Regions from separate parts of the Homo sapiens genome. Here region 1 is linked to region 2. A link means that fine-mapping ties the variant in region 2 to the expression of a gene that starts in the linked region. Tissue or cell type: whole blood. Region 2 holds a variant in brackets; the other region holds the start of a gene. All regions are shown on one strand. Distances are between the middles of the regions. Region 1 holds the start of LRRC4 (leucine rich repeat containing 4). Region 2 overlaps SND1 (staphylococcal nuclease and tudor domain containing 1).

Region 1 (2,500 bases), 32 kb before region 2:
CCCGCTCGCCCTGGCCCCGCTCCGCTCGTCTAGAGGGGGCGGGGAGGAAGCGGCCCGGGGAGGGGGGAGGGGGGAGGGGGAGAGAGGAAGAGAGGAGGAAGGAAGGAGGAAAGAGGAAGACGGGCGGCCGGAGGCGCGGGGCTGCGCGGCGCCGGCCGGCGCGGCGCTGGAAGGCGCCGGCGTTAACCCCGCGAGGCAGGCGACGGAGGGGGAGCGGCGCTAATACATAAGAGCACTGCATCACGCTAATCTTCTCCCAGAACAGTATGCGTCAGCAGTACATTCACGTTCTGACTGAAGGACAAAAGGATGAGAGAGCAGTCTGCGTGGCTGCCGCCTGCAACACCGCGAGCCCGGCGCGAGGAGGAGACGGTGGGCGCCGCGCGCAGGGGCCCCGCTGCTGCTGCTGCCGCCGCTAGCCAGCGGGGACTATGTTCCTGGGCTCCGGAGCGTTTCCCGCAGCCGCGACCCCCGCTGCTCACGCCGCTGCAGCAGTCCGCTGGCGGCGCGGCCACTGAGGGCGCCGGGAGCCGAAGCCGCGAACTCGCTCCCTCCGCACAAAGCCGGAGCCGGCGGCGCGCCGGGGGCCGGGCAGCGGCGGGCGGCGACGGGCGGTTGCGCGCCGCCGGGGGCTGCGGCCGCCGCCGCCGCCGGACCCGCGCCCGCCCCCGGACTCTCTGAAGGGGCCTGCGGTGCGGGCGCGACCGCGGGCGCCGCGCGCTCCTCCGGCCGGCGGACCGGGTCCGAGCGCAGCCGCCACGCCGCTGGTCCTCGGGGGCCGGACGGAGCGCCGCCCCGCGTGCCGGCAGCCGGCGGACTGGAGAACTGACCCCCCGTTTTTGTCTCTTCCACCCTCCGAGAAGAGGCGAGGAGAAAGGGGGTGTGTGTCTGGGGAGGGCGAAGGCGCCGCGAACACCTCCTCTTAACTCTCGCCGCTCCGCGAGCTCACGACCGCAATCAGCTGCCGCCGGCCCGGAGCGGCCGACGCCGGGAGAGGGAGCGCAGCATCCAGCGAGTGCGGCCTGGGCGGCTTCGGGGCGCCCCCGCACTCCCTCCGGCGGCGGCCCGCAGAGCGGGCCGGGGCCGCCGGAGCGCACTTTGGCGATGAAGCGCCTTCCCCCGCGGCTGGAGCGAGCCGGTGCCAGGGTCCAAGGACAAAGCCGGGAAGCGCTGGTGGCGCCGCTCCTTGGGCGGAGGGGGGGGCATGCACCTGCATAGCCCGCCGGGCCTTGGCTCTCCCAGGCGCGCCTCAACTCCGCGGCTTCGCCGGCTCCGGCTCCGGATTTACTAGAGGCCATTTTGTCTCCCCCACCCCTTCCCTCCCCTCCCCTCCCCTCCCCTCTGCCCTCCCCGCCCCCACCACTTCCCCCTTTTGTTAATTAAAACTAAGAAGTCGGAATGGGAACGAGGTGCCCAGCTCCCGTGGAGAAAGCTTAAGGACACCACGCCAGTGCTTTCCTGCCTTCCTTCCGAGGTAGGTGACGGCGAACTGGGTGGGGACGGTTGCAGTGTGGGAGAGTCGTAGCTTTCGGAGGGCTTGCCTTGAGGGTGGGTTGGGAGACCAGGGGCCGCTCGAGTTTGGCAGGATTTTTTTCGGCCGATCCGCTCCGTCTCTCTAATCGCCCCCTCCCCACCTCCTTCTCCAGATGGAAAGAGGAGCTCCTAGCTCACTTAAGCCGGGGTAGGGCTGGTTCTCCTTTCCGAGCCAAAATCCCAGGCGATGGTGAATTATGAACGTGCCACACCATGAAGCTCTTGTGGCAGGTAACTGTGCACCACCACACCTGGAATGCCATCCTGCTCCCGTTCGTCTACCTCACGGCGCAAGTGTGGATTCTGTGTGCAGCCATCGCTGCTGCCGCCTCAGCCGGGCCCCAGAACTGCCCCTCCGTCTGCTCGTGCAGTAACCAGTTCAGCAAGGTGGTGTGCACGCGCCGGGGCCTCTCCGAGGTCCCGCAGGGTATTCCCTCGAACACCCGGTACCTCAACCTCATGGAGAACAACATCCAGATGATCCAGGCCGACACCTTCCGCCACCTCCACCACCTGGAGGTCCTGCAGTTGGGCAGGAACTCCATCCGGCAGATTGAGGTGGGGGCCTTCAACGGCCTGGCCAGCCTCAACACCCTGGAGCTGTTCGACAACTGGCTGACAGTCATCCCTAGCGGGGCCTTTGAATACCTGTCCAAGCTGCGGGAGCTCTGGCTTCGCAACAACCCCATCGAAAGCATCCCCTCTTACGCCTTCAACCGGGTGCCCTCCCTCATGCGCCTGGACTTGGGGGAGCTCAAGAAGCTGGAGTATATCTCTGAGGGAGCTTTTGAGGGGCTGTTCAACCTCAAGTATCTGAACTTGGGCATGTGCAACATTAAAGACATGCCCAATCTCACCCCCCTGGTGGGGCTGGAGGAGCTGGAGATGTCAGGGAACCACTTCCCTGAGATCAGGCCTGGCTCCTTCCATGGCCTGAGCTCCCTCAAGAAGCTCTGGGTCATGAACT
Region 2 (2,500 bases):
TTTTTTTTTAGAGAACACTCACCAAAGCTCAAGAAGCAGTGACTATTCAGGATGATTACAGAGGTAAGAGAAACTAGGAATTGTTACTAGGAGCACCTGATATATCAAAATGAAATAAATGGCACCCAGCTCTCCTAGCACAAACCCTACCTCTCAGGGGAGTCCAGCAGTCTCTTCCTCCTGATAACATTTTTCCATTTATTCTAGGTCATAGGCCCTACATAGCTATGAGAGGGAGACCAGGAGACTGAATGTGCCTGGCAATAGCTATCTTCCATAGGAATGGCTCATTAAGAATATCATTTCATGTCAGATGGGTAGACTGTATCGAATACCATGAGTGGCAAGGGTTCTGCTTGGCAAGGCTCTGTTTCAAGGACTTTCATGACCTTATGTGATCCAGTACATGCATTCCCCAATTGCAATCACTGCCCACTATCCTCATCATCCAGCTTCAATTGAGATGAGGCATAAAGTAAGTACTGTGGACCCTTCTAGCAGAAAAAATGCAAGAGGAAATCACATGTGAGGCTTTTATGTCTTTACTCTGGGCTGAGCTGGGTTAGACCTAAAGATGGAGAGGAAAAGTGAGTGCCAGGAGTCTTGGAACTGCTAAGGTTTCTATTGCTTCTACTTGGGGGGAAAAATGAAACTGTCAGGTCTGAGGACTGTATTTCTTCCTTTTTTTTTTTTTTGATAGGAACAACATTAAGAAAAACAAATTGATCTGACAGAGAAAACATAAAACTCTCTTAAGGAAGAGTTTACTATAGTAGGGACACATTCCCTAGGGGAAGGGAAGGGAAGCGTCTGCTGAAAAGGATTTTCTTCCCTGGGCTAGAATTACATCCTTGAGGCCTTCCTACATGTTCCAAGGAGGCCAAATCTCTTGTGGTCCTAAACTATTCCTCATTCCACTCCTAATCCCAACAGCCATCCTGGGATAGGAACACTAGCCTCTGGAGAGCAGTGAGGCCTACCAAACCTACACCAGTCAGCCCATATGACATAATTACAGGTAACAGAATCTTGGCCAAGCCAATGAAAAATTAGGCACAGTACCTATTTCAGAAGAATGGATGCAATTCTATGCTTGACTGGCTATGAAAGTTCTAAGGAGAGGAATAGGGAAACAGTCAAGCTAAGCCAGCAGCTTTGCAGAGAGGAATCCCACTGGAGCCAGCACAGTATTGGCACCTATTAGCACATGCTGCTGAGCTCACTTGGGGAAGGCCACCAGTGACTGGAGACTCAGCTACTTCCAGGCGTTAAAAGCTGATAGAGGAAGCCCAGTAGTCAGGGGAAGAAAGGCAATGGGGCAACGTCCCCCATGGTACATTTCTACCTCCACTTTTCTCCTTGTGATGCCACTTTCATTTAGGGGCTGGAATGGGATTTGAGGGCCCTCTCTTCTCTC[T/C]AGGCTTTCTGAAGTACTTCGCAAAGGGCCAGGAGCCCAGAAGTGAAGGGGCTGTAATAGACAGATAACAACCTGGTATTCAGGAACAGCCCGTCTCCAAACAGGAATTTGTTGACCTGAACTTCAAAATTAACTCTTCGCTTATTTAGCAGTCTAATCCACAAAACAGAAACATACCAGAGAGGGAGAGATTTGCAGACTATGTTCAGAGAGTGAAGGGACACGAATGGTTTCTATTTGAACACTAAACATTTTTCAAAACACTCATCATTATCTCATTACCTTTAAATATACTGGCTGGAGAGACAGGGAGACCCAGGCAGGTCAGGGTCCTATAGTAAGTGCACAGTCAGGTTTTGGCTATGGACTTTTTCAATGATAAGCTGATGAATTAGCAGCCATGTGTCCAGTCTTAATACTTCAACAGTTTTCCTCCCACCCTGACAAATGCCAAGCTTGGAGAGCTTTCCTAAAGAACCATAAAGGACAACAAAATAACAGGCCTTCTTCCCATTCTCTAGAATTAGGTCACAAGGAATCAATTAGTTGATTTGACAAATATTTATTTATTGAGTATCTCTTATATACTAGGCACTGGAGTACAAAGACAAAACATGGTTCCTGTCTGTGAGGAGCTTACAAGCTAGTGGGGAGAGACTTGGGTCATAGATCCCTTGTATACTATTGGTAAGTGCACAACAGATACATGCACAGGGTGCTGTGGGAACTGATGGAAGGACATCTCATCTAGCCTGGGAGAGCAAGGGAAGCCTTCCAAGAAAAGGTGGTGCACCTTCCAGAACAGGAGTGAATAGGAAAGCAAGCAAGGGCGATGACTGATGTGCTGGGCCGAAAGTGTAAGTCTACCTGAGAGATGGGAGAAACAAAATGTAATGGTATATATGGTGAACTGCCAGTATAACAGGTCCATTCTGATAAGGCACGAATTACGAAGTGAGTGGGGGTGGTGAGACATAAAGTTGGAGAGGTTATCAAGAATATATGTAAACTGAGATAAGACTTTATCCCAGAGGCAATGGGGAGTTATATTTTTTAAACAAATGCACCTACACAGTCAGATTT

Evidence for each region. PIP is the estimated chance that this variant, and not a neighbour inherited with it, causes the effect.
Region 1: it holds the start of LRRC4, and the variant in region 2 is fine-mapped to the expression of LRRC4 in whole blood (INTERVAL, PIP above 0.99).

The regions. Positions count from the first base shown.
Region 1 is chr7:128,029,887-128,032,386 of GRCh38, reverse strand. It overlaps LRRC4 (leucine rich repeat containing 4), which reads left to right and starts at 950. Exons shown (of 2, transcript NM_022143.5): 1 at 950-1,474; 2 at 1,647-2,500. The coding sequence starts at 1,747. All of the region lies in intron 16 of SND1 (staphylococcal nuclease and tudor domain containing 1), which reads right to left. RefSeq lists a silencer at 387-506.
Region 2 is chr7:127,997,587-128,000,086 of GRCh38, reverse strand. The region is part of intron 16 of SND1 (staphylococcal nuclease and tudor domain containing 1); the gene reads right to left. It overlaps SND1-IT1 (SND1 intronic transcript 1), which reads right to left. Exons shown (of 1, transcript NR_027330.1): 1 at 10-2,500. Among named protein-coding and RNA genes, the nearest start is that of SND1-IT1, 1.3 kb to the right of the region's middle. The variant T/C (reference allele first, on the strand shown) is at 1,418.